Regions from separate parts of the Homo sapiens genome. Here all the other regions are reported to be linked to region 1. The links are microRNA targets in miRTarBase. Many come from high-throughput screens and were not tested one by one. Region 1 holds a microRNA gene; each other region holds the end of a gene's coding sequence.
Evidence for each region. Region 1 holds the annotated microRNA hsa-miR-494-3p (UGAAACAUACACGGGAAACCUC, at 1,322-1,343, shown strand). A microRNA usually pairs through its seed, bases 2 to 8, with sites in the 3' UTR of a target mRNA and lowers its output. Matches are read on the target gene's strand: a 7mer-m8 pairs with bases 2 to 8, a 7mer-A1 pairs with bases 2 to 7 and ends in A, and an 8mer does both.

Region 2: miRTarBase lists C2CD4A as a target of hsa-miR-494-3p. Seed matches in the 3' UTR shown: 7mer-A1 at 1,678-1,684.
Region 3: the mRNA of RRAGD is a reported target of hsa-miR-494-3p. Seed matches in the 3' UTR shown: 7mer-m8 at 3,038-3,044, 7mer-A1 at 1,205-1,211, 8mer at 735-742 and 7mer-A1 at 32-38.
Region 4: the mRNA of RGS16 is a reported target of hsa-miR-494-3p. Seed matches in the 3' UTR shown: 7mer-A1 at 2,073-2,079.
Region 5: the mRNA of SLC8A1 is a reported target of hsa-miR-494-3p. The part of its 3' UTR that is shown has no 7-base or 8-base seed match.
Region 6: the mRNA of GALP is a reported target of hsa-miR-494-3p. Seed matches in the 3' UTR shown: 7mer-m8 at 3,176-3,182.
Region 7: the mRNA of ZSCAN16 is a reported target of hsa-miR-494-3p. The part of its 3' UTR that is shown has no 7-base or 8-base seed match.

What each region holds. Positions count from the first base shown.
Region 1 is chr14:101,028,360-101,032,426 of GRCh38, forward strand. MIR494 (microRNA 494) reads left to right here and starts at 1,275; the gene lies at 1,275-1,355. It overlaps LOC124903407 (mucin-2-like), which reads left to right. Exons shown (of 5, transcript XM_047432049.1): 5 at 1-4,067. MIR1193 (microRNA 1193) reads left to right here and starts at 1,693; the gene lies at 1,693-1,770. MIR543 (microRNA 543) reads left to right here and starts at 3,628; the gene lies at 3,628-3,705.
Region 2 is chr15:62,068,209-62,072,275 of GRCh38, reverse strand. It overlaps C2CD4A (C2 calcium dependent domain containing 4A), which reads right to left. Exons shown (of 2, transcript NM_207322.3): 2 at 1,359-4,067. The coding sequence ends at 3,553. Among named protein-coding and RNA genes, the nearest start is that of C2CD4A, 3.3 kb to the right of the region's middle. RefSeq lists silencers at 3,470-3,959, 4,010-4,067.
Region 3 is chr6:89,364,700-89,368,766 of GRCh38, forward strand. It overlaps RRAGD (Ras related GTP binding D), which reads right to left. Exons shown (of 7, transcript NM_021244.5): 7 at 1-3,508. The coding sequence ends at 3,357. Among named protein-coding and RNA genes, the nearest start is that of UBE2J1, 14 kb to the left of the region's middle. RefSeq lists an enhancer at 3,338-3,567.
Region 4 is chr1:182,596,678-182,600,744 of GRCh38, reverse strand. RGS16 (regulator of G protein signaling 16) reads left to right here. Exons shown (of 5, transcript NM_002928.4): 5 at 232-2,122. The coding sequence ends at 453. Among named protein-coding and RNA genes, the nearest start is that of RGS16, 5.7 kb to the left of the region's middle.
Region 5 is chr2:40,111,630-40,115,696 of GRCh38, forward strand. It overlaps SLC8A1 (solute carrier family 8 member A1), which reads right to left. Exons shown (of 11, transcript NM_021097.5): 11 at 1-4,000. The coding sequence ends at 3,624. All of the region lies in intron 3 of SLC8A1-AS1 (SLC8A1 antisense RNA 1), which reads left to right. Among named protein-coding and RNA genes, the nearest start is that of SLC8A1-AS1, 200 kb to the left of the region's middle.
Region 6 is chr19:56,184,875-56,188,941 of GRCh38, reverse strand. It overlaps GALP (galanin like peptide), which reads right to left. Exons shown (of 6, transcript NM_033106.4): 6 at 3,167-3,727. The coding sequence ends at 3,672. Among named protein-coding and RNA genes, the nearest start is that of ZSCAN5B, 11 kb to the left of the region's middle. RefSeq lists a cis regulatory region at 1,443-2,041.
Region 7 is chr6:28,129,694-28,133,760 of GRCh38, reverse strand. It overlaps ZSCAN16 (zinc finger and SCAN domain containing 16), which reads right to left. Exons shown (of 4, transcript NM_025231.3): 4 at 3,679-4,067. The coding sequence ends at 3,811. The region is part of intron 1 of ZSCAN16-AS1 (ZSCAN16 antisense RNA 1); the gene reads left to right. Among named protein-coding and RNA genes, the nearest start is that of ZSCAN16-AS1, 5.6 kb to the left of the region's middle.

The sequences.
Region 1 (4,067 bases):
GAAGGGCCAGGTATTTCCATGTCAACCCTGCTTTTTATAACCAGAGAGAACATATGAGGTAGCACCAATGACCTCCGCCACCAATCCTTCCTATTAGCTGATACCCAAACACCGTTCCTTCCAGCCGAAAAGAGCCCTCATAAAGAGAGGGCAGAGAGAGTGTGTCAAGGCCATGTGACAGCAGGCAGTATGCTGTTGCCTCCGGGGTATCCAGGGTAGGCGGCTGCTGGGTCCATGTAGATTGGGTGCTCTGCTGGCTACGGAGGGGTCAAAGGACAGGTGGCAAGGGTGCAGAGCCGCAGCCTGGCCCTGGGATTTTCTTCTCAGACCTCTGCTCCGGGGTCCACCTTCGGGGGAAAAGAGGGCACAATTTTACAACTTTGTAAGAGGAAACCTGAAGTTTTCTGACCCCTGATTCTCCCCAGCCCTGTCAGGATTGATCTAACTCTCTGTTGAGATGCAAAAGAGTCTGGAGATAACAGTACTCCCCCCACCATGAAAACAATTATTGTCAAAGGAGTTTTATAGCAAACAGAAAATCCGGCCCAGAATTGGCTAAAACATTTGGGGAGCTCACATCAGGAAATGAGATTCGTTTTTATTTCTTGATTCTGCTGAATTGGATTGAAGGCAGCAGAAGGCATTAAGTGGGATTTGACCTGGAGGAAGGTGGCCTGGCGGTGCTCCTGGCTTCCCCGACCCTCCCTCCCTAGCCGTGTGTAGCAGGCACTCACTTTGCTTACAGCTTCCTCGGTGCCATGTATCTGTTTTTGGAATCACACCTTGCCTGGAAGGCTGCTTGGACCCATGGCCAGTGCCACACAGGGGCCTGGGCACCGGCTAACTGCAGACCCAGCCACCTGCTTCTTGACCACAGAATTCGAGATTTACTCATGAGCTCTCTTGACGCACTGACTTTGGGATGCAAACCATTATGACTAGGGGCACTTCCCGTGGCCTGGACTTCCACAAGGAAACCCTGGTTCCACCGTCAGGAAAGCTCCAATACCTGGAAAGAGGTTGTACCTAAAGTGTTCTCTGTATTGGCGGAAAATGTTTCCCGGGCAACCTCTTTTCATTGTGAAGGCTTGAAGAGCTTTTGGCTGACTTCCCAAAAGCAACCTGGGACACGCAAATAGAAGCCATCTGACGTCTGGTCTACCCAGTGCCATGTAGATTCGGGGAATCTTCCTGGAGGTGACACCAACATCGGCGAAGATTCGGCAGTTCTGTTTTGATTTTTTTTGTTTGTTTTTTGATCAGTGCTAATCTTCGATACTCGAAGGAGAGGTTGTCCGTGTTGTCTTCTCTTTATTTATGATGAAACATACACGGGAAACCTCTTTTTTAGTATCAAATCCCACCCTGGAGGCACTTCCTGTTCCTGATGCAGCCTTCAGGGAGGGACGTTGCCGGCTCCACTCTCGGTAGGCGCAAGCGAGGCTGACAGCGTGCCATGCGTCGTGGGGGTGTGGCTCTCAGGCCCCAGCCATGGAGGGCCCCTAGGAGGGGAAGCTGAGTTTGGAGAAGGGCCTGTGCTTCTGTGGTTGAAGGAGGTTGCTCATTGTGGTGTTTGTCTATTTGTTGATTCACGGTGGGTGGCGCCTCTTCAGTGTGAGATCTTGCTTGGATGGCCTTCTGGACACGCTAGCAACGTCATTGAAGGGACGATGGTGCCATCTGCTCTCCAGGGTAGCTGAGGGGATGGTAGACCGGTGACGTGCACTTCATTTACGATGTAGGTCACCCGTTTGACTATCCACCAGCGCCCGGTCCATCTGTGGGATGACATCTTGGTGCACATGGCAACTTCGGAGAAGATGTGGGAGGACGTGGGGCCCGTGGGACTCTGCAGGATTTTAGGAGGGGTTTCCCTTCGGGGCCCCCTCCTCCTACCTCGTTAAAATCAATATAAGCAATCATCAGTGAATAATCTCTCTTTTGGTTTCAAATCCTGCCCAGGAGGGCTGATAGTCTGGCCACAGACAATGCCAGGATTGCAGAGGCCTGGGCTTCAGTGCCCCATCAGGGAAAGTCCCACCCCACACCACATGCTGACTGCAGGAGGTGTGTGTGTGACCTGGTACAGGGGTGTGGTTTATCCTCGGAAGGGTTTGAGGAGTGTTGTGTGTGTGCAGGACAGGGCAGGCGTTGGGACAGCTGTGGTAGTGAGGGCCACTTTATTCTGTGCTACATGAAGAGAGGCTGTCTGACAAAGCTTGCCATGTGTTTGATGAATGCTACGTGGCCCATCTCTTTTCCATAGGAGGACTTCCTGGACATGAAGCTAGATTCCGGCAGGGCCACTGGTGTCAGCAGCACTCCTGGTGAGTCGTGGATGGGGGACTGAGGAGCTGGCAGCGTGATTGAGATGAGCCCTTCCTGTGTTGGGACCACTCAGAATCCAGCCGCTTCGTGGGCAGCGTTCAGTCCATGCTTGGGGAAAGGGCTTTGTTGCCGTTGCTCATCTCTGTCTGTTGTTCAGCTCTGCTTGCCTTACGAGGCCCCAGATGCCCTGGATGCCCTCAGTGTCAGACTGCGGAAGATGTGTCCCGGCTGTGACACGCGCTTCAGGGGAGGGCTGTTGGCGTCAGGTCCATGGAGAGGTATGGGAGTGGACATCTTGTCTGAGAGCAGACATTCTATTTCGGGTGTGTGTCTTGGTCCGTTCATCCTCAGTCTCCCTCCCATACCTAGGATGGCTTGTGGAGAGAAGGCCTGCCCTGAGGGCTGAAGTTGGGACCCACAGCTCTCACCCCGGCCTTGGTATGCTCCCATGGCTACGGCAGAGGCACAAGAAAGTAATTAGAAACGCAGAAACTCCTTAAGGCCAAGGCTGGGAACTGCTATATTTCTACCCACAGATCATTGACCAGAACAATTACACGGCCGAACCCAAGGCAAGGGGCGGGGAGGCCCACTCCACCCGGGAGGGGGTTGTGGTGAGGTGTGAATGCAGGAACCGGTGAGGATTTGCCACCACCAAGTCAGTTGTCCACGTGGACCACCTGAGAACTTGGGTTTTATTCATTGCTCATTCATCCCTCCCTAACCCGCAGCTTCCGGTCTGCCCCGGGGGCTCTTCTCCGGCTCAGGCTGATCGACAGTGGTGACGCTGTGCCAGGACCCCTGGTCATTCCATCTGTTTGAGGCAAATGTTAAAAAATCCCTTGCGCTACCCATTCTATGACGACTCCCTTGGCTCAGAGGCTCCATCAGGGCAGACACTTTGCTGTTTGTCCCTAAAGGGTGGGTGGTAGATCTCATCCATCTTATCTGGGGAGTTATTGTGACTCTCCTGGTCCCTCCTCATGTATCCTCAGGAGGACTTTTAGGATGCAAAATCACTGTTTCTGTGCCATTGTCATATTCTGTGCTACTGGAGGAGACTTTTTGTTATTGAGAAATTGAACACATCGTGCTCACAAGCAGCTCCAGGACACAATGCCACCTGTGCAGAGGGGGCAGACCTGTTAGATGTCTCCCAGGTCTTGAGGGGGTTGTATGCACGGCCATATCTTTGTCACCGGTTGCCCGGTGCGCATCAGGACCCATGTGCTCTCAGGAAGCCCGCAGGAGTGATACCAGCCGCGGAGAAGCAGTGTTGTCAACGGTGCTGACGTGCGGTACTTAATGAGAAGTTGCCCGTGTTTTTTTCGCTTTATTTGTGACGAAACATTCGCGGTGCACTTCTTTTTCAGTATCCTATTCTGCCTTGAAGACGTCTTGGTTTGGGTGCAACTTCAGGGAAGGCACATGGGCCCCTGTAGTGGACGCTGATCAGGACCTCCCTACCCCATGTCTTTTCTCCTTCCTAAATTTCTCCTTGTTTTTTTTTTTTTTTTTTTTTTTTATGAAAGCTCCCGTCTTCCCGCCGTGTGCTTTGATTGCATTGACCCTGCCCCACTTCCTCCACCAGCCCAGGCTTAAGCGAATCTCTTGATCTCTTCTCCTTTGCCACTGCAATTGCTTCCGGAATAGGCCCATGACCCCACTGGGCCAGTGATAGGCAAGGAGATGCTTGCTGCAGCTTCTGGGAAAGAAACTGTTTCTCCCTTTCCTGTGAT
Region 2 (4,067 bases), not on the chromosome of region 1:
AAGATATTTAAACCACAAAGAAGCAAGATCATGCCATATCATTTATGGAGAAGATGTGAGTACTAAAGCTTGATGAGAAGAAACATGAGAACTATTAAAAGCAGTTTTCTGTAACCAACATGCTATTGCCACACACTCCCAACTTCATTATTAAAGGAAAAAGTTTTCCCCTCTTTATTTAAATCTAAAATATTTTTGCCACCTTGTGCTCTCAGATAGGTGTATTAAGTTACTTTGCAATGTGAATCTTCACTACAATCTAATATTAGCAAAGGTCTTCAAGAAAATAGGGTCCTGGCATTAGATTGACCTTTAGTTGAAATGGTCTAATATCTAATAATAGGGGTAGAGCCAATTGACAAAACACTTGAGGGATCCACTAGAGGGCAGTAAAGTGTAAATGAAATTTAAATTTGCCCCAGAAAGGCTAATGTTATCCCAAACATTTGTATTGCAAGTAAGATTTCTTGAATGCAAAAACATTAGATTAGATTAGTGATGTACAGTGTTTCTCTTTTCCTGGAATTAGTAGTCAAAGAGCCATTAGATTGAAGAGCAAAATGAAAATCAAATTGGTTCTAGTCTCAGCTCTTTTTACTGACTGTGTGATTTGGGGCAATCTAAAATTTGCTTCTCTGGTCCACTTCTATGATATAGATTTGCACAAAATGATTATTTTTAAATATTTACTTATTTATTTGTTTATTTATTTATTGAGACAGTTTCGCTTTGTTGTCCAGGCTGGGGTGCAGTGGCGCGATCTTGGCTCACTGCAACCTCCACCTCCTGGGTTCAAGTGATTCTCCTGCTTCAGCCTCCCGAGTAGCTGGGATTACAGGTGTGCACCACCACACCCGGCTAATTTTTTTGCATTTTTAGTAGAGACAGGGTTTCACTATGTTGGTCAGGCTGGTCTCAAACTCTTGACCTTGTGATCGGCCTGCCTCGGCCTCCCAAAGTGCTGGGATTACAGGCATGAGCCACCGCACCCGGCACAAAATGATTATTAAAGTTCTTTTCAACTCTAAAATTTTATGATTTTATCATTTATGATTCTATCTCAGCCCCTTTAAAACCTTTTTGATTAGACTCAGGTTATTTGATCAACCATAACTTGCCATTAATGGTGATTCTGTTTGGAAATCACCACCACTATTTCATAAAAAATTTAGATCCCTCAAATGCACTGATTTACTTTCACGAAAAAAAATCTACTTAATAAAATGACATGTATATAATCTAGTGACAACAGTTATTGCAACATCTTCTGGAATAAAAACTTGGGCTATTGAAACTATCAATGCCATTTTTTATTTTAAAAACAGAAAAATTAAAACCCACAATTATACGTAGCCAAGTTGTTTTCACTCTCCATTTATTTTCCTTTTAAAGTGCTACATTTGTGAACTCATTAGCAGTTACCCTATCAAAATTTCAAAATCATGAAGAAGGTTATACATAAAAAATGAATGTTGGCTTGAGGGCCAAGGAAATATTGACTGATTAGATAGAAGAGCACATGATAGATCTGAACTACTCTATGTCATCATTCATTTGGTCAACAACTGCAAGCTCCTGGATGTGGCTGATTTTGATAAAGTCATAGAATTCACAGTATTCTTCACATTTGTTCAATGGTCATCATAAATACACATCACAATAACCCTAATTTGTGACTGAAACAGAAACTCTTTTCTTTTTTCTTCGAATTTTGTATAATATTTATTTTATCAAACTCTTTTCTAAATAGCATTTTTAATGAACATGAATGTATAAAACTGTGAACAATTTTAATAAAAGCAGAAACTGGTCGGGCATGGTGGCTCACGCCTATAATCCTAGCACTTTGAGAAGCCAAAGCGGGATGACAGCTTGTGTCAGGAGGTAGAGGCTGCAGTGAGCTATGATCACACCACTGCACTCCAGCCTGGGTGACAGAGTGACGCCTTGTTTCTAAAAGATAAAATGAAATAAAATAAAGCAGAAACCATTTCTGAATCCAGATTGATAATGGAGTCATATTTAACACCATCCTGTATATTTAAATATTTTCAATTTTTTAAACCCTCATTTAGGATGCATTTTCCTATTTGCATAAAAAAAAGAAAAAAATGCCCTGCTGGCAGTGAATTCAAGGGATGAGGGAAAATCGTCCTCTAAAACAGGATTGTTAAATCTGGAATTATTATCAGAAGCCAGAGGTAAAACCATGCTATCTGTACACTCTCCACTGCCTGTTCCAGCAGATAAACTCACCTGGTTACAACAAGGCTGGCACCCATTTCTATGATTCTGAGGCCGGTTAGCTTCCTCCTCAGAGCTTTAGACCCATCAGCTCATCTCAATGCCTGAAGTTATTAGCATGAGATAATAAATTATTCATTTCAAGCAATTTGTTTTTTCACCAAAAGCAGGATGAGGAATACAAGTAGACACGAACTTCAGTGTCAACAGTTTCAGAGAGAAGTTGCACAATACTCGCAACTTTAATAGCGAGCCCTTTAGACACTGTGGTATTACCTACATAAGAGTAATGAGTGAAATGCTGATTGTCTAGGTTCAAATTCTGGCTCTGCTCTTTATTCTGTGCCTCAATATCCTCATCTGTAAAATGGGCATAGCAGTGCCTCCTTTTGGGGGTTAAAACATAAATTAACGCTTGTAAAACTATTTATTATTATTATTATTATTTGCAGACAGGGTCTCACTCCGGTTGCCCAGGTTGGAGTGCAGTGGCACGATCTCGGCTCACTGCAGCCTTGACCTCCCAGGCTCAAGTGATCCTTGCGCCTCAGCCCCAGAGTAGCTGGAACTACAGGTGCGTGCCACCACGTCCGGCTAAATTTTGTATTTTTTATGGAGACGCGGTCTTCCCATGTTGCCCAGCCTGGTCTCAAATTCCTGGGCTCAAGCCATCTGCCCGCCTCGGCCTCCCAAAGTGCCAGGATTACAGGCGTGAGCCGCCACACCTAGCCTATTATAACTATTATTTAAGCTTAGAATATTAAAATGGTTTCATTTTCTCCAATGCTTTTCCAGTGAGATATAGCTAGGAGTATCAGGCTGGCGTTCCAACTAATAATTCACTGTTGATCTTGGACAAGTCACTTCACCTCTTTTGCCCTCATTTTCTTATCCGGGGTCTTAAACAAAATGCTTCAAAAGTAAATGCTCCAAGATGGTCTCCATGCATGTTGTGGAAAGCACCAATTTTAAAATGAGGTGATTGGAGCAAACAGATCGCCAAGACACTTTCTAGTTCTAACACTTCATGTGATTCATTATTTCCTAGGCGTGTGTGGTACATATGGTATGCAAATGGCTGTCTATATTGGGAAACACTGTAGAACCATTCCATTTGCTGAAAAAAATTCTGGAGGTATCTATGGAAAATATCATATCTTTTACTGGGATAGTTAATCTAGAATCATCTCTGCCAGTGTTGTACTGAAACGGGACTGATAAGAACAACAAATACACGTTTATTTTGTACCACGCGGCTGTCAGTGTCCGGAGTCCCCCGGGCAGAGCGCCCCGGGGAGGGCTGGGCCCTCAGAGCAGCAGGAGGGCGCCCAGGGACAGCTCACCCTGGCCCAGCAGGCGGCCCCGCTCCCGGCCGCGGCCCTCGTCCCGGGCCTTGACTCGAACGGCCAGGCGGCGCACTTCGTCCTCCGAGAGGCCGTCGAAGCAGAAGTCCTGGTCAAAGGAGGCCTTGCGGCTGCGCCCCACCACAGTGCTGCATTGCCGAAGCGCGGTGCCCGGCGGCCGCAGGACGAGGCTGAGGCGACAGCTGACGGCTCGGGGCCCGGGGGCGCCTCCGGCCGGGCTCTCGGCGCGGAGCAGCCGGAGGCGGAGCCGCCCGGTTCCCGGACAGTACTCGGCGGCCAGGCGCAGGGCGTCGCCGGCGCGGCCCAGAGCCACGGTGCCCTCGGCCTCCAGGCGCTCGGGAAACGGGACCCGGGACGACGGCGGGCTCGTGGAGGGGGCCCGGGCCGGGGACTGGGAGCCCGCGCGGCGCTCCTTGTCCTCGTTCCCGCTGGAGACGGAGCGGACGCGGGTCAGGCGGC
Region 3 (4,067 bases), not on the chromosome of region 1:
AAATTTTACCAAATGGATGTAACAGGGCCAATGAAACAGTGACATACATGTATGGTAAGCAACCTCAGAAACAGGAAAGGCTGTACTTCCTTTTCACCAAAGAGACAATTCTGCTCCCAGAAAGCTTAGCTATGAATACACTTGAAATGAGAGCTTTACCAAAGCATGAACCTAGGACACATGCTTTTAAATTGGCAGTTAACATTCTTGAAAGCAATGGCTTAACAATGGTTATTAAGTGATGTACTGCTTAAAGTAAAACATGGACTATACCTGATTACAAATTACATCCAGTCTGTACAAGTTGAATACATACCATACTTTAATAACCAAGACAATTCAGCTGTTTTTCCAGAGTATATTTCAAACAGAGTTGGCATATAACCCGTATGTAACAATATTGCTGTGATTTTAGTCATATTTAAGGGTCCAAAATATGTTCACAAAAGAACAGTTTGTGAATGTCAACCAGTTTTTGCTTTATATTCCTTCAAAAACATTCCACCCTGGTCATTCACACTAATCTACATCACTGAAAATAACCAAAATAATTCACAGTCTCACCTCTATGTAAAAATTCTAATTGACTCAACAGGGAAAGGACTGCCCTGCTCCTTTTGAGGAAGGAAACCTGCAAGGCAAGTTCTCAATCCCTAAAACCAAGCAAAAATGTTCCAGTGCAGTTGCTGTAGCCATGTATTTAGGATTTGTATTTATAGAATTAAATTTGAGAATGAAACATGGCCATACACATCGCAATAAGCTGCCTCTCATATCAAAAATACAATGCAAAATGACTTGAAGACATTTCCAATAACACAGATTTGAAAAACTGAACGCTTAGACATAACTCCTGCATCTTTCTTTAATTAAGAAGTCATTGCCACACTTACAAAGTTAGAGGCAGTAATCTATATTAGCGTGTGATTAATCAAAGAGTACACTTACTACCATGAACTTGGGCCCTATGTCATAGAATTATTTTTGCCTTTCCCCCAAAGAATCATTTGCTCTTGAAGTAATAGGCTTTTTAAGGCACATTTTAACAAAAACCCATCATATACCCAGCTTAAACATGGAAGCTCCAACCTGGTTATAGTAATAAATATACCTAAGTAATGTGTGATTTACCAAATAGGCTAGTGTCTCTAGCTTGAGGATAAAGTCATATTAGAAAACTGATTCTTCATTTGCTTATTCAAAGTGAAACAACATGTAAAAAATATTAGAGAATTAGATTTATAACAATAACCCCTAAGTGTCAGGTCTGTTGGCAAAGGTCCAACAGGATATAGCTCTGGAAATCAGGGAGCCCTGGGCTCCTAACCATCCAGGTTTCGGAGTAGGAATCATGAGGAAAGGAGTTAGGGCACCTTAATTATTTTTAGAAATCTCCTTTCAAAATGCACAGAACCTTGGGAGGCTCAAACCTTAAACACCAACCAGATATCATCTTAAATTCAGTTACCAGCTTCAAAGAAACAGGACTTGGGGAGAGGAAGGAGAGAGGTTGGAAAGAAGCCACAGAGAGAAGTGGGAAAGTTTAGGCTGGGCACAGTAGCTCAGGCCTGTAATCTCAGCATTTGAGGAGGCCAAGGCAGGAGGATTGCTTGGGGCCAGGAGTTTGAGACCATCTTGGGCAACACAGTGAGATCCTGTCTCTACAAAAACAAAATTTAAGAATTAGCCGGGCGTGGTTGTGCACACCTGTAGTTCTAGCTACTAGGGAGGCTGAGGTGGAAGGATCCCTTGAGCCCAAGAGGTAACAGTGAGCTATGATTGTACCAATGTATTCCAGCACAAGCAACAGAATGAGGCCCCCCTCTAAAAAAAAAAAAAAAAAAAGTTTCAAGTATAAGTTGCTTTAGGGACTTTATATATTTTGCTAGGACCAACTTTGATGTTCTTAGGAGGCTCTGCTTTAAAAAAAAAAAAATCTCATTTTCTAATGCCCCACAAGCATGCCTTAGGGTGCTAACCCTTGAGATGCACGTAAAATTATCTACTTGGAATGATTTGGCATAGGGGTAGATTTAGGACTCTTAATTTCCTGTTAGTCTAAAGTAAACATAAGTGAAATAATTTCACAGAAACAATTACACAGCTAATTGTAATGTCTCTCCAGCCATCCTTTTCCCACTGACCTTTAGGGGTCTTCAGGATGACTCTTCAGCCTTGCAGAGCATGCTGGTGGCAGGCTGAGCTTGGCTTAATCATAAGGTGGGAACAAGTGGAGTACATGAGGCATGTTATCACCAGTGAGAAGGAGATGTGGAGGTGACAAAAGTGACTAACAGGATTGAGCTCCATGGTGGGGTTCTGCGATTTGTTCTATTCACTATGGTCATGGAGCAATAAAGAACTGGTCCTGAATAAGCATTTTAAATGCAGCACACCAGACCATCGCACAGGGCCAAAAGTCCAGAATTGTATCTATGTTTTTTAGTCTGCAGTTGCCAATCACATACTTTTGGAACAACTTTAGGCCTCTGATGTTACTTTAGCCCTGGGTGGTAGGTACAGAAAAGCCTCCAGAAACCCTACAATTCAGTGACATTCTTACTTCTCTCCAGTGTTCGGCACCATTTTGGAAATCTGGTCCCAAAGTTTCAAAAGAATACTAATGCAACAAAAAGAAATAACCTCTCTGTATAAAGTGATTATAGAGATGTGTGTTGAGGTAAACAGCTTCATAAAAACCGTTGAGCAGGGAAGCACAGCCACTGCTATAGAAATTTTTAGGTAAGTCTGGTGCTAGCATTATTCTACAAAACTGTTTACACCCATTATAAATAGGGGACAGTTCTTATTGCTCCTGGAGCTTGTAGCTCCAATCTGTTCCAGCTCCACTGAAAAATGATTTTTCTCAACAATTGGTAGCAAAGATTTCCAAATTTACAAAAAGTCATTACCAATGCATCACTTTTTGATTAATTTCTGATTGCCATATAGATATGGACTACAGTATGCATGTCCTTGACACCAAGTACAGAAAAAAAGCTTAGAAAAGTCGTTTTATCAAAGTTCAGTTCAATGAGAAACATGAAAAAGTGCAAAATATGTACAATTCCTGGCAGTTCTCACACGGGATTTTTTTGACTACAGACCATAAAAGTTTACATTTGTGTAATGAAATGACAATGGATTTCACATCACTGTTAATATACAAGTTTTTGCTTCAAAGTGCTTACTTTATTTATAAAAGAGAAGATCAAGAGGGTTGCAGGAATTTTTTTTTTTTAACAACAAATCAATGGTATGTGTCCCAATCTCCTTCTTCCTCTTCCTTTAGTGCAACATGGCGCAGCAGCCTCATGGATAAGGTCTGATTTCAAAAGACATTCCTGAAACCTCACCTACAGCAGCACTCTAGGGGTCCCATTAGGGGTGGCTCTCTTTTTCTTCTGCAGCCGATTCTGAACCTTTCGAGATTTTACTACTTTCATTCTCACCTCAAAAACTTCATGAATGGCCTTCCGGAAGCAATGAAAATTATAGTCAATTAGCCCTGGAGAAGAGAACAAAAATATTTATAAATGTCACGTAGAAATAATCTCCATCTTTTCATGGGACCCATGGCCAGGACAAGCCAGTAGGGGGCAGTAGAGGATGGTCTTAGCGTAAGGACCAGAGATTTCCCTGGGATGTCTGCAGCTGGCCTTCAGAAATTGCTATAAATCTTTAGGAATTATAGGCAAAGTCTTGTGAAGGAAGATTTTTCCTGATGCAAGGTTGCAGAGCATAGACCATATTTTCAAAGGTTCCTATGACCCAAAAGATTTAAAGAACGACTGAACTGAACTTTTTTTTTAACCTTTCAGAATTAAAGATTTCTTACAATTAAGAGAAATCTGTAATGAAAAATGTTTCTCCCCAAAGGGCATTATTAGACTGAGTAGAGGCAGATCCTGACTTGGGATCCCAAAGCTGTGTATCAATCAATAAATATTTACTGAGTATCTATTATATTTAAACCATTCTCATAAGCCCGAGGGAAAGCGAAGCCCCTAATTTTAGAGTGTTAACAGTCATCTCGCCAACTCCAGCAGAAATTCAACAACCAATGA
Region 4 (4,067 bases), not on the chromosome of region 1:
TTGTATACATTCTTGATAGATCCTCATGTTAATTCTGAGAGATTGGAGGACAGACACTGGATCAGATGTGGGTACAAGCCCAGAGCTGAAAAGCTAGTGATCAACTCAGGAGCCCCCACTTCCTGATGCAGCATCCGATGCTCTTTCCAATGCCCAGCCTGCCGTTGGCCCTCCCTCAGCCATGCCCACCCTCTTCCCCAACTCACCCTGTGTGTGTCCTCCTTCCCGCAGGTCAACATTGACCATGAGACCCACGAGCTGACGAGGATGAACCTGCAGACTGCCACAGCCACATGCTTTGATGCGGCTCAGGGGAAGACACGTACCCTGATGGAGAAGGACTCCTACCCACGCTTCCTGAAGTCGCCTGCTTACCGGGACCTGGCTGCCCAAGCCTCAGCCGCCTCTGCCACTCTGTCCAGCTGCAGCCTGGACGAGCCCTCACACACCTGAGTCTCCACGGCAGTGAGGAAGCCAGCCGGGAAGAGAGGTTGAGTCACCCATCCCCGAGGTGGCTGCCCCTGTGTGGGAGGCAGGTTCTGCAAAGCAAGTGCAAGAGGACAAAAAAAAAAAAAAAAAAAAAAAAAATGCGCTCCAGCAGCCTGTTTGGGAAGCAGCAGTCTCTCCTTCAGATACTGTGGGACTCATGCTGGAGAGGAGCCGCCCACTTCCAGGACCTGTGAATAAGGGCTAATGATGAGGGTTGGTGGGGCTCTCTGTGGGGCAAAAAGGTGGTATGGGGGTTAGCACTGGCTCTCGTTCTCACCGGAGAAGGAAGTGTTCTAGTGTGGTTTAGGAAACATGTGGATAAAGGGAACCATGAAAATGAGAGGAGGAAAGACATCCAGATCAGCTGTTTTGCCTGTTGCTCAGTTGACTCTGATTGCATCCTGTTTTCCTAATTCCCAGACTGTTCTGGGCACGGAAGGGACCCTGGATGTGGAGTCTTCCCCTTTGGCCCTCCTCACTGGCCTCTGGGCTAGCCCAGAGTCCCTTAGCTTGTACCTCGTAACACTCCTGTGTGTCTGTCCAGCCTTGCAGTCATGTCAAGGCCAGCAAGCTGATGTGACTCTTGCCCCATGCGAGATATTTATACCTCAAACACTGGCCTGTGAGCCCTTTCCAAGTCAGTGGAGAGCCCTGAAAGGAGGCTCACTTGAATCCAGCTCAGTGCTCTGGGTGGCCCCCTGCAGGTGGCCCCTGACCCTGCGTTGCAGCAGGGTCCACCTGTGAGCAGGCCCGCCCTGGGGCCTCTTCCTGGATGTGCCCTCTCTGAGTTCTGTGCTGTCTCTTGGAGGCAGGGCCCAGGAGAACAAAGTGTGGAGGCCTCGGGGAGTGGCTTTTCCAGCTCTCATGCCCCGCAGTGTGGAACAAGGCAGAAAAGGATCCTAGGAAATAAGTCTCTTGGCGGTCCCTGAGAGTCCTGCTGAAATCCAGCCAGTGTTTTTTGTGGTATGAGAACAGGCAAAAAGAGATGCCCCGAGATAGAAGGGGAGCCTTGTGTTTCTTTCCTGCAGACGTGAGATGAACACTGGAGTGGGCAGAGGTGGCCCAGGACCATGGCACCCTTAGAGTGCAGAAGCTGGGGGGAGAGGCTGCTTCGAAGGGCAGGACTGGGGATAATCAGAACCTGCCTGTCACCTCAGGGCATCACTGAACAAACATTTCCTGATGGCAACTCCTGCGGCAGAGCCCAGGCTGGGGAAGTGAACTACCCAGGGCAGCCCCTTTGTGGCCCAGGATAATCAACACTGTTCTCTCTGTACCATGAGCTCCTCCAGGAGATTATTTAAGTGTATTGTATCATTGGTTTTCTGTGATTGTCATAACATTGTTTTTGTTATTGTTGGTGCTGTTGTTATTTATTATTGTAATTTCAGTTTGCCTCTACTGGAGAATCTCAGCAGGGGTTTCAGCCTGACTGTCTCCCTTTCTCTACCAGACTCTACCTCTGAATGTGCTGGGAACCTCTTGGAGCCTGTCAGGAACTCCTCACTGTTTAAATATTTATTTATTGTGACAAATGGAGCTGGTTTCCTAGATATGAATGATGTTTGCAATCCCCATTTTCCTGTTTCAGCATGTTATATTCTTATAAAATAAAAGCAAAAGTCAAATATGACATCCTGTCTTCAAGTGCTGTGTGGGTCAGGGGAAAAGGGGAAGTGTTGTGGAGAGCTCTGGGGAGGAGCTGGCTTTTGGGAATTCCACAGGACAGGCGAGTAAGCTTCCATGGCACAGGCAGAAGTACAGGGAGAGCTTGATATTCACCTGGTACCTGCCAGAGTCAAGAGAAGGGATAGGTTCTAACGAGGCTGCTATGATCAGTGACTTTTTAAGCTCGTGACAGCCCCACTTGTGTTGGGCTGTTGTGTGGATTGGACTGGGCTCAGCCCACTGTCATTTCAGAGCCCGTATCTTTTGCCCACCTGGCTGGGACTCGGCATGAGCCATTTCCAATTCTGCCTGTAACAGTGCAGGGGTCAGTACCCCTTGGTCAAGTAGCAAGACATCATCAGTTAGGTGGTGACTTTTGTAGGATTTTTACTTTTAAAAGTAATTTGTAATTAAATTCAATTACAAATCTTTTGTAATTTATATTCAAGAAATTATTATTCTTTTTATAATTTCATAGAAGTATCTGAGATGAGGTATATGAAGCCACTCTGTACATGAGGCTGCTCCATTCCATGGGCCAAGGGAATAAGGGTTGAACTGTGCTTGAAAGAATTTGGGGGTACGGAGACAGGCGCGGTGGCTCATGCCTGTGAGCACTGAGGGAGGGAGGCTGAGGAGGGTGGATCACTTAAGCCCAGGAGCTCAAGACCAGGCTGGGCAACATGGCAAAACCCAGTTTCTACAAAAAGTCAAACATTAGCAGAGTGTGGTGGCACATGCCTGTAGTCCCAGCTACTTGGGAGACTGAGGTGGGAGGATGGCTTATGCTGGGGAGGTCAAGGCTGCCATGAGCTGAGATCACTCTACCGCACTCCAGCCTGGGGGACACAGTGAGACCCTGGGGGTAGGTTTGCAAGGATCAAAATCTGTTCTTCCTCTGCTAATTGCCTGCTTGTTCTCCTTTTTCATCCTACTGAATCCCTCTCATTTTTTTCTGATTACGACTACTTAAAAAAATGTTTTCTTCTCTGTTGAATGATCTGTTTATACACAGATCTGGACCTTAAATGAACCTTTATTTCTTCCCTATTGATAGTCTGAGTAAAGTGATCAGACTTCAGGAACATGGGGTAGAAATCCCCATAGAATCACATCTTAAGCACAGATCTAAGGAGGGATTCTGTGGGTGACACCAGGGAGGATCCTGAAATTAAGGGCCTGGGAAGGAAGACAGGGACCAACACTGTGGCAGGCCCTGAGCTCTGTTAGTCCTTACAACAGCTCTGTGGAGTGGGTCTGAACACTTTATCATCCAGAGAAGGAAACAAGCTCTGAGAGGGAGGGACATGCTTGGGGCAGCCAGCCAGTGAGTGGCAGAATGGGGATCTGAACTCAGTTATGCCATGGGGAGTCCAGTCTGTGAAAGATGGGTGGAGGAATGTGACTGATAAGGGAAGGAAGAGCGGAGGACCCAGAAAGACAGGGAGGTACTAACACTCGCCCTTTCCTACTGCTCTCCTTCCATCTTTATGCCTTTAACATGCATGTATTGAGTGCATCGAAATCCCTCAGACCCAAATGCGTTGGGTCCAGCTTCTGCACAGGCTCACCAAGGCTTCCTTAGAGGACTCTCTCATCCTCTCCAATCAGATACCACAATTTCCCGGCGGGTCTCCCTACCCCAGCCTCTCCCTGTGCTGGTTCATTTTCCACACTGTGCCAGTCTTCAGCTCTAAAGCACAGATCTGAGCACTTTGTGGCTACGTTAGAACCCCTCAGCGGTTCACTTTTGACTCTAAAATAAAGTCCAGCTTTAATCCTGACACACAAGGGGGTCTCTGACCTGACCCAAGTCCCTCTCCAGACGTATCTCCTGCCTGGACAGCCTTCATTCTCAGACTTTTCCCTTCTCTCTCTCTCTCTTTTTTTTTTTTTGTGGCTACACATGC
Region 5 (4,067 bases), not on the chromosome of region 1:
GCTTATTCCATTTCTGACATCACTTCCTTCTATACTGTTTTGACTATATGATATATGAAGTTAATAAGATATAGACAGAAATCGTTAATGCGAGGCAGAAGTTCTACAAGAGGAATATAACATATGAAACTAAAAGAGAAATTTACTTAAACATCCCCTTGGGAAGAAACTGTACTACCATCAATTTTGGGATTGGAATTTTTTGGGATCGACTGATTTGATGTAATACTCTGCATGCTAAAAAGTTGTCTGACATGTAACTGTTTATGGGCTTATGATCCTGGATGCAGGAAAGGATGTAGATAGAGTCATACTAAGCAACGTAAAAAAAATCAGTGAAATGGAGGAATGTCCAACATATATCTCAGCACTGTAGGACAGACAAATATTCTGACACTGTGTTCTCCTGGGACATTAAAAAGAGAACATTGCATGACCGAAGGGTTGACGTTTGCAAGAGTTTGAATACTTGGTGTCTGTTTTTTTCTTTGGATGATGATACCAGTTGCACAATAATACCATTTTGGTTTTTATTTCTTCAAAACATGAAAACAAAAAATGAAGTAGATGACAATGAGAAAGGAGAAAACATTTCATACAGAATATGCTGTATCACTAGTGATTAAATCAGAAACAATTAGAAACTTTATTTGTCTGTGTCAGTAATATGTACCATTTATAAGGAAGAGCACAATTAGTGCATTTCCCGCCCCCCCCCCAAGCTGTGCACAATACACACAAAATAAAATAATTTTACACAACTATAATAATAACAATCCTGAACAACCAGAATCATAGTTTCCTAGAACATGAAAATTTAAAAAGCAAACAAACCAAAAAGCTTTCAAATTGAAATCGACCAATGCAAGAATTTCTTAAAGTTCTCTGTGAAAATTTGCTACAGGATTATTGACATTCCTAATACAGCTAAAAAATGAGTGCAAAAATTTTTCTAATGTTTAAACAACTTATATTCCTTGAATATATTTACTTGGTGCTTCTAGGCTAGCTTTCCATTTAGCAATTCTCAAAAAAAAAAAAAATAAGGATGGGAAGGATGGGTTAGAATGACAAAGAATTGTAAAGTGTGGGCCATAGAAAAGTTCCATTGCCAACAAAGATAAAAGATGGGATACACTGGGCTTTCTCAGTGATCTGGATCACCAACATGATTGCCCTTCTTGGTTTAAAATGGAGAGATATATTTATCTGCAAGTCGGTCAAAGATAAAGAGGGTGGTTTTCCAAACATATGCCTTATGCTCTCTTAGTTAAAGAAATTCTTGGGTATAAATACAATTTGGACAATTGCTTTGATACAGTTTCAGTGTGTTTATGTTAAAAGAGTTTCATAATTGTTTTTTCTTGCAAGATAAAAATCTTTCCATATGGCTTTCTTCACTTTTACTCATGAAAATAGTAATCACATAAACTGTAACCCTTCTGAGGGCAGGGATCTAGACTGTTTTGTTCATGGCTTAGTCCCCAGAAAGTATCATACTACCTGGCACATTAAGTGGGTAACCAGCATTTAATTACTCATTCAGTCACCAAATGTTTATTAAATGAGGAAGGATCATGGTTACTGAGTGACAGAAGAAAAAATAAGTCTCAACAGCTTTAATTTATTAAGTATTTTTGAATCAATACAGAGGGCTAGGAATGTCTCCAGCCTGGGATTCCTTATAGACACAGAAGTCTCCGAGAGGTGACCAAAGTCATTCTATTATTTTTCTCATTAGTGGACTCACTACTTTGGAATGTTGGGTTTATCCATGTTCTTTGGTATTTTAACATAGAAACAGCTATTCTTTTTAAAGGGTTAAAAATATCCCAGTCCAATCCTCCTGGGAGGTACTAGTCTTATTTAATTGCCTTCTCTTTCAGCATAAGTAGAGGAGACAACACTTTTAAAGGCCCGTTGGTCACCCTGGCTTCTTTCTTACTCAGCAACTACTGATATAATCAAAGAGGACTAGACTGGACAGTGAAAGAAACAGGGCTCAAAATAGCCTTTTAAGTAAAAAAATAAAATGAACAAACCAGCACTATCTACCATCTGTGCCAGACAGTGCAGATGTGAAATAAATACTTTGCAGGGAGGGGTGTTGTGGAAAGGGTGGCTCTGAAAGCCTAGGCACATCCAACATATCAACGTCTCTATAAGGCCTTTCTCCTTGGCCTTCCTGAATTAATGGGTGATTTTTAGAGGCCTCTGATGTGTTCCACATGGCTAATTTTCCATGAAGATCTTTGTAGTTTGCCTGCTATCCTCTCAATAGCTTTAACTTCTCCCCACATGACAGTTATTGCTTCTTAGAAATGAATGTGCAGAACCGTGAACAATAATCCATTTTCTCCTTTTATCCCTAGTAATTAATCAAACTCAATAACAGCACAAAAGTAACAACTCAGGTGAAAAGAAAACTCACTTATGTCTTCAATGTCCAATCAACATTGCCAAATGGGAGAACAGTATGTACTATACTCTACTATATACAGATACTCTTTGTTTTGTTTTATTTGTTTTTCACCATGCACTGTGTAACAGGTATCACAACAACATTTCCGAACGGCACATGAAGAAGGAGCAAATGTTCAGTCATGACTGGAACAGGATTGTGCAAGCCATGGATGCCTTTGAAAATAAAACTGACAGACAATCCCAAGCAACGGCAACATGGGACTGAGACACATGTTAATGCAAATGGAAAACGATGATGTGCTTTTTGAATGGGGTTATTCTTACTGTTTGCATAGGGGATGGCAGGTGGACAGGAGGAACAGGGTTGGGATGGGGCACCTGGGGGCTTAGCTGGGCTGAATGCTGGAAGAAGGACCTTGCCAATCACAGTCCAGAGCTAAAGAGATAAGAAAGAAAGGATTTTGCACGTTCCTGGGAATCTAGGCACGTTTTCCTTGTACCTGTTAAACGAGACTGCCAGGTATCACATGTTTAAATATCAGACTATTTCTAGAACCATCGGATTTCCTGGCTCCATTCCACTTTTATGCTTCTTCTTGGAGGCAGCTTCACCTCCACTCACATTCCGGAGATAAGCATGAACTTTGGTAATACGATGAAGACATGCTTCTTTCTTCTTCCATGCCCAGATTTTTTCTTAATCCAAAATAAGTTTTAAAGTGATTGGGGGAGGTGAGGGGGAATACTAATGATTTAAATTTTTACCAAAACCCATTTACATTTGGATGGTTTCACTTTCCACAAAGAAAAGCAACAACCCTGACTCTCCCAAAAAAACAAAACAAAACAAAATAACAAAAATAAAGCCAAACATTAACTACCTCCCCAGCTCCACTGAAAACAAAACCAAAAACAAAACAAATCAAAGCCTTAAGGATTTATCAACCTGGAGAGAGTGCAGCCCTTCTAGACTGAGCTGCAAAGATGGCCCTGCCTCCATGCCTTGTTGAACATGATGATGCCCCTGGGAATGGGAGGTGATGGTTTTTTACTTCGGCCCTAGTACAGAGTATGCTCTTGAAGCTGGATTCCATCAGCAGGTAAGTGAACATGACAAATGTCAGTTTCCTCTGTCCATTATACATAATTTTTATGTATATATATGTATATATATAAATTTACTATATCTGATAGTTCCTTTAGAAGCCTTTTATGTGGCAGTAGGCCTCCAGGGAGGAGAAGAAAATGTACAAGAGCCATAGGAGCACAAAGAGGCAGGATGTGAGGAGCTTGGCAGTCCGGGGCCCACCCAGCTCACCTCCGATTTCTGGCCTCCGCCGATACAGCAGCACCCCCACATTGATGAAAGCAAAAATGGTGAAGAGAGTGACAGAGAAAGCTAGTGTGCCAGGGGACACTTTGAACTGTTCCCCATTGGCTGCGTGGTAGATGGCAGCGATGGACCAGGCCACACCGATTCCCAGGAAGACATTCACCGCGTTGCTGCCCGTGACGTTACCTATGGAGGCGTCTGCATACTGGTCCTGGGTGGCTGCCACTTTGCTGGCAAATGTGTCTGCAGAGGAAGAAGAGAAAGTCAATGACACTCAATCTTTTAGAGATGTCTTTGGAGTGCTGCAAGC
Region 6 (4,067 bases), not on the chromosome of region 1:
AAATAAAAGAAAAGCTGACATGACTGCCTAAATATTGTATTCATGGCATAGATGCAACAAATTTTTTTAATGCAATCATTGGACTTGGGCTGCTAAAAAAATATTAGAAGGCAATAATTTATTTATTTATTTATTTATTTATTTATTTATTTATTTATTTTTGAGACAGAGTCTAGCTTTGTCACCCAGGCCGGAGTGCAGTGTCAGATCTCGGCTCATAGCAACCTCTGCCTCCCGGGTCCAAGCGATTCTCCTGCCTCAGCCTCTCGAGTAGCTGGGATTACAGGCGCCTGCCACTGTAGCAGGCTGAGTTTTGTATTTTCAGTAGAGATAGGATTTCACCATGTTGGCCAGGCTGGTCTCGAACTCCTGACCTCAGGTGATCCACATGCCTCGGCCTCCCAAAGTGCTGGGATTACAGGTGTGAGCCACCGCGCCTGGCAATTTTTGTAGTAGAGATGTAGTAGAAATTTTTTTGATAGAGATGGGGTTTCACCATGTTGGCCAGGCTGGTCTTGAACTCCCGACTTCAAGTGATCTGCCCACCTTGGCCTCCCAAAGTGCTGGGATTACAAGCGTGAATCACCGTACTTGCCCAGTAAATTATTTTTTGATAAGAAAAAAGAATCCCATCACATAACACTGCTTCAAAACCTCACTGCAAAGCTGGGTGTGGTGGCTCACACCTATAATCCCGGGACTTTGGGAGGCCCAGGCAGGCGGATCACTTGAGCCCAGGAGTTAGAAACCAGCCTGGGCAACATGGCAAAACCCCATCTTTACTGAAAACACAAAAATTAGCTGGGTATGGCGGTGCATGTCTGTAGTCCCAGCTACTCAGCAGGCTCAGGTGGGAGAATCACTTGAACCCAGGAGGTCAAGGCTGCAGTGAGCCAAGATCTCCCAACTGCACTCCAGCCCAGGCAATAGAGTGAGACCCTGTCTAAAAAAAAATCTCACTGCAGCCTCTCGTATTAACTTAATCACTTTAAGTGATTGCTTCTCCCAGGGACGTGAGTCTCCAGCAGGGCGAGAACTCATCTGCTTTCTGCCTCCTTGAATCCCCGACATTTGACTCTGTATAATTATTATTTTTATTATTATTATTTTTTTAGTCTGAGTCTCGTTCTATCACCCAGGCTGGATGGGGTGCAGTGGCACAATCTCAGCTCACTGTAGCCTCTGCCTCCTGGGTTCAAGCAATTTTCACGTCTCAAGCCTCCGAGTAGCTGGGATTACAGGCACCTGACACCACACCCAGCAAATTTTGTATTTTTAGTAGAGATGGGGTTTCACCATGTTGGCCAGGCTGGTCTCGAACTCCTGACCTCAAGTGATCCTCCCGCCTCGACCTCCCAAACTGCTGGGATTACAGGCGTGAGCCACCATGCCATGAATAGTAATTAATTAATATTAATTACTTATTAATTATTTATTGTAATTTATTGTAATAATTATAATTAATTACAATATTAATGAATAAGTATTAACAATATTAATACTTATTCATTATGCGAAGAAAAACCTCAGGATTCCCCAAACTCCTTATGCAAAAGGAGAGGTCAGCCTGGTGGCTGAGTCAGGCAGCGCCCTCTTCCAATTGGACAGCAGTTGCTGGCATTTGGCATCAGCCAGATCCCCACGGAAAGGGAAGAGGCCCCGGGCATCCACGAATGCCCCCGCAAATCATTCATAAGGAAATTCTTTGCTGACTTCCCATAAACAAGAACTCACCCTTTGTAACTTCAGGTCTACAATGTAAGTCTAGCTCCTAAAACTCAGGTCTGTTTTATTCCACACTGACAATGTCCATTACTAGCTTATCTTCTGAGGCGTGGAACAAAGATAAGATGAGCTCAGTCATTCCTCCACCTACCCAAAGATGTCTAAGTAATTGGTGCTTCCTTTACTCCCTTTACGCCCTTTTTTGCCTTCAAACATGCACTTTATCTTATGTAAAACGTTGCACTTTGGGAGCCCAAGGCGGGCGGATCACTTGAGGTCGGAAGTTCAAGACCAGCCTGGCCAAAGTGGTGAAACCCTGTCTCTACTAAAAATACAAAAATTCACCGGCCATGGTGGAAGGCGCCTGTAATCCCAGCTACTCAGGAGGCTGAGGCAAGAGAATTGCTTGAACCCGGGAGGCAGAGGTTGCAGTGAGCTGAGATTGCGCCACTGTACTCCAGCCTGGGTGACAGGGTAAGACTCTGTCTCCAAAAAAATAAAAATAAAAACATAGGCCGGGCACAGTGGCTCATGCCTGTAATCCCAGCACTTTGGGAGGCCGAGGCAGGCAGATCACGAGGTCAGGAGATCGAGGCCACCCTGGCTAACACGGTGAGACCCCGTCTCTACTAAAAATACAAAAAATTAGCCAGGCATGTTGTCGGGTGCCTGTAGTCCCAGCTACTCGGGAGGCTGAGACAGGAGAATGGTGTGAACCCGAGAGGCGGAGCTTGCAGTGAGCCGATATCACGCCACTGCATTCCAGCCTGGGCGACAGAGCGAGACTCCGTCTCAAAAAAAAAAAAAAAATTAAAATAAATAAATAAATAAAAAATAGAAACATATATTTTTTTTAAATGTAGATTTACTGGGCACTAACTAAAGACTGATAGGAATTTAACCATTCAGCTCACCACCTACCCACCCCTCTGCCTCTATGCCTGCCCCCGTCTAAGGAAATGTATAAATAGTAAATATCCTGAAAACTTCAGAAAAACAGCCACAGAGGTGTCTGTGGCTCACCTTTCCCTGGACGTGCCCCACAGCCGATTTCATAAACCTCGATGGATGGAGACTGACAGTGTCTCAGTCACTCATTTTGGTCATTAATTACTTTGAGTCTCACTTTGTTGCCCAGGCTGGAGTGCAATGGCACAATCTCGGCTCGCTGCAACCTCTGCCTCCCGGGTTCAAGCGATTCCCCTGCCTCAGTGTAACACTGTGGTTTCTTTTTCCTGTGACTCCTCAAACCCAAAATGAAAGTAAAACTTTCAGCAAAACAATAATCCAAAATGGATTGCCTCCAATAGGTTATATTTTCCCCAGTCCCTCACCTGATTCTGTCATCCTGGATTTCCCAGTCCCACACCTGACCCCATCATCCTGGATTCTGCTACCCCTAAAAAAATTCCCAGACTAATTAAAAGGGAAAAAATGGAGTGTTTGACAAGAAACATTTTATTCTCTCCATTCTGCTCCAAACTGCCTCTCCTCACTTCTCGAGGAGACTCATGTGGGTTGAAAGAATATGGAGGAGTAAGTACGCAATTTGAAGAATCTTTTCAAATAAAGACACAGACTCTCAGACTTAAGAGGGTTATTTGTATTATGCAATAGCTCGTGTTATAATTGGGATGATTCCAAAAGAACACAATTCCTTTAAATGTGTTGCAGGAATATTCCCTGATTACCCCAGAATCTCCCAACTAGTCCTCGAATTACTATTGGTTCCATTAATAGCACATTATACTGATTTCAAGGATGAATCAATAAAACCTAAGAAACTCCAGAAATTTTTTAGAATAATTCAAATGCTTTACAATGTCTTCATGAGACCTGGGTATTTAACTTCAGGATCTTAGTCTCAGCATAGGGTACCTAGAAAAGGTTTCAGAGGGAGCAGGAGGAGCTGGAGAAGAAGGATAGGAACAGGGATTTGAAGACATCTATGACTTCAGGACATCTTCCTCCTTGGGAATTTTCATGCTGAGCATGCCCAGATCTGTGGGAAAGAAAGAGGTAAACTTTGAATGGTTTTTCTCACTATCACTCCCCACCCAGCTAATTTTTGTATGTTTAGTAGAGATTGGGTTTCACCATGTTGGCCAGGCTGGTCTTGAACTCCTGACCTCAGGTGATCTGCCCACCTCAGCCTCCCAAAGTGCTGGGATTACAGGCGTGAGCCACCGTGCCTGGCCCCTTCTCTCTACTTTCATCTGCCCACATATTCTCCCTTTCCGCCCACATTTTAAGAAGGCACATGGTGATGGTGGGTGTTTTCAAGAGTCAGAATGTAATCGAGGTGAGGATGGAAATTAGTGAATTCAGGGAGCGTATCATAC
Region 7 (4,067 bases), not on the chromosome of region 1:
ATGCCAATATATTAGAATCACTTGTCTATCTTTCCTATCTCCATCCCTTGTTTTATAGTTGTTCCTCTTTTCATCCTTTTCTTTTCATCAAATTATTATCTTTTCATCCCTTTCTCATTTTCCCCCTCTTCATCAATACCCACTGATACCTCCTATAGACCCTCCCTCAACACTCATCTATTTCTTCCATTCATACCTGTTGACACCCTTACTTAGAATTGCCAGTTCACTACCAACCCATCTGTGTCTGAGAGAGCTGTCCCCCATATTCCCTATAGCTGTCTGTTGTAATTACTGTCTTGTTAGTCCACGAAACTACAAAATATAAATTCTTGCCTCCTCCCTCAGAAAAAAAAAACCCTCCAAAAAGATATGAAGAACAATAACACATTTGCTTTTGACACAACTCTCTGAGGAACTGCTTTCCATGTTCAGGTTTTTTTTTTGTTTTGTTTTGTATTTTTTTTTTTCAGACCAGGTGCTGTCCATTCAGGATAGCTCTCTGCTAGAACTGATAGTGTCCAACATATTACACCTCCTCTTCCAAGAAGTGTGGCTGTGATTGAGCTGTGTTCTTTCCAACTAGTTGCACTCCCACCAGTTTCTTCTGTGGGTTTCTACATGCTTACTAAGACATTGCCTGCATCTCCAGAGTACCAGCAACTACTTAGATTTTCTTTGACCTCATGCCTCTTTTGCCTTTTGCCTGCAGTTATCCTAGATCCCACTGACTGTTCTTCTCTTACCTACATCATTCTAGGCTGTCTCTGGCCCCATGTCTTTATGTCCCTCCCTGACTCTTACCATTACCCTTCTGGTTAACATTAGACCAAACCTGTGGTGGGCACTGTGGTGGCAATTTGGAATCAACATAAAACCTAAAAAGGGTACAATGGTTATAGTGCTCCAGACTACTCTTCACTCAGCCTTTAAGGGTGCAGGACTCTAAGACTAGAACAGTTCTTTGTACATAATAGGTATTCAAAACTACTAGCTGAACGGAATGTTCTGTCATATATAGCAGGAGTCCCCAAGTCCCTACCGTGGCCAGGAAAGCAGGAGGTGAGGGGCCAGTGAGCAAGCAAAGCTGAGCTCTACCTCCTGTCAGATGAGCAGTGGGATTAGATTCTCACAGGATCGCAAACCCTATCGTGAACTGCACATGCGAGGGATCTAGGTTGCGCTTTCCTTATGAGAATCTAATGATAAATGAAACAATACCCCCTTCCCTATCCTTGGAAAAATTGTCTTTCACGAGACCAGTCCCTGGTTCCAGAAAGGTTGGGGACTGCTCATACAGAGGATAAAGGAAAATCAGTCTGTCATGTGTTTACCAATTTTAGGAAACCTAATCTTAGGATAGCCAAAATCATCTTTCTTACCATTGCAGAAGCCTCCCTAAATTCAAGGATCAGAAACATGAGTTTCCCCTTTAAAGACTCTGAGCAGTTTCTAAGCATTGTAGTGTTTCTCAGAAAGACTAAAGGTAAAAGGGGAAAAGCCATTATTCAGAAAGCACCTAACTTTATTTTTAAAATAAGGATGTTTCTAATACTAATACTAAATATTTCTTACTTTACTTTTCTCTTCATGACCATTAAAGAAAATCCTTTCTTTGAGTGTTTCAAATACTTTGAAATATTACTCAGGTAAATATAGTAAGTTATAAAACAAGTATTCGTGTGAAACCTGACATTTAAAAGATGTGTTGATGTAAGATACTCAAAGTAAATATACATTTTTTTAAAGGACCATTATGTTAAAGGGACATAAAAGCTCAGTTTATCTTTAGGGCATTATGAGAAATACCTTAAGATTCATTTTCTTGGCTGGGCATGGTGGCTCATGCCTGTAATCCCAGCACTTTGGGAGGAGGATGGGAGGATTGTTTGAGGCCAGGAATTCGATACTAGCCTGAGTAACATAGTCAGACCCTATCTCAAAAAAAAAAAAAAAAATCCAGATATGGTGGTGTGCACTTGTAGTCCCAGCTATTTGGAAGGCTGAGGTGGGAGGATTGCTGGAGCCCAGGAGTTCAAGGCTGCAGCCAGGAGTTCAAGGCTGCAGTGAGGTATGATTGTGCCACTGTACTCCGGCCTGGACAATGGAGCAAGACTCTTTCTTTCTTTATTATTATTTTTAAAAGATTCATCTTCCTACAGTTATAGACATAAAAATGATTCTTATAGTTTTCCTGATCTTAAACACAATGATAAAGCAGTTGTTCTTAATAAATATCTTCAATTGAAATATCTTAATTGAAAACAAGAGATTTGAAGAGATTAGATCACTTCTTTCCTGATTGTTTTGGTGATCCTTATTCCTAGAACTAAGTAAAGAACCAGAGCTCTGCTCTTGGCAGTTTGATTGGTGGTGTGAATTTGAATGTGCAAGGCCTATGGCCACAATTCCTATCATGCTATAAGATTCTCAAATTAGAGATGTGGCCAGGTGTGGTGGCTCACACCTTTAATCCCAGCACTTTGAGAGGATGAGGCGGGCGGATCACTTGAGTTTGAGACCAGCCTGGCTGACATGGCAAAATCCTGATAAAAGTACAAAAATTAGCCAGGCATGGTGATGCATGCCTGTAATCTCAGCTACTCAGGAGGCTGAGGCAGGAGAATCGCTTGAACCCGGGAGGTGGAGGTTGCAGTGAACAGAGGATCACTCCAGCCTGGGCAAAAAAAAGAAAAAAAAAAAAAAAGGTGTGTATCTGTGCTGTCCAATATAGTGGCCACTAACATGTAGCTATGAGCACTTGAAATGTGAGGAACTGAATTTTCCATTTTATTTGAGTTAATGTGGGTACTGGCCACCAATCTGGACAAACTGGACCAAGTTAGACCAACCCCTTCCTATCTCCCTCAGTTTAAAATAACCTGAAATCCAGAAAAGAAGTTATATCTAGTTATAGATTCCTTCCTCTCCCCAGCAGCTCCTAATGATCACAGACTGCCTCCTCCTCCATTTTGTTTTCCTCAGCCTTTTTTTCTTCTTTTTGAGATAAGGTCTTGCTCTTGCCTAGGCTGGGGTGCAGTGGTGCGATCACATCTCACGATAGCCTTGAACTCCTGGGTTCAAGTGATCTTCCCACCTCAGCCTCCTAAATAGTTGGGTGGAACTACAGGTGTGTGCCACCATGCCTAGCTAATTTTTCTTAAGTTTCTGTAGAGGTGGTGTCTCGCTGTGTTGACCAGGCTGGCCTCCTGTCTTCTGATGGCTTATTCTTTATCATTGGCAAACAAAAATTTCCAAAAAATAATCATACTCCCCATTTTAAGATAAAAAAGGGATGTTGAGGCTATTATATGAGTAATGGTGGAAAACAAATAATTAGCATTGTTTTATATCTTAATCTCAAAAGTAGTTTTCATCAGTTTTAACTTGTCGAAACATACCTGGTAAGCCTCTATTATCATCTGTACTTTACAGAAGGGGAAATGAAGGCAGAGAAAAATGTGTATGTCTTGTCTTGCCTAAAGTCAGACACTGAATGGTCAACTAAAAAGGACCTGGAGCAGAGACAGAATTAATTCACTGTCTTTCATCCAGGAACCATTGATCTTGGGCTGCAGGTGAGCAGTGTTGTCAGTGGACAAGGCTTTCTGAAAGAATTCTTGATTCCCCCTCAAAACTGAACTAATTTGAAATAAAAGGATATTTTACTCAGGTAGATTCTTTGGTCCAGAGAAGTTTAATGATGACTGAAGCTTTGACCACATTGAGGAAACTCAAGGTTTCTAAAATAGATTCTTTGATAACTAGTTAGGCCTGAGTGTCCAAAGAACTTTTGATATTACTGCTATATTAGTAGAGTTTATTTGCGGTATGAATTCTTTGATGTCTAATAAGAGCTGAACTTACTCGGAAAGGCCTTCCACACTCATCACATTCATAGGGTTTTTCACCTGTGTGGATTCTCTGATGCTGAATAAGACCTGTGCGCCCACTGAAGTCTTTCCCACATTCTTTACATTTATAGGGTTTTACTCCCGTGTGTACTCTATGATGTCCAATGAGATGTGAGCGCTGAATGAAGGCTTTTCCACACTCATCACATTTAT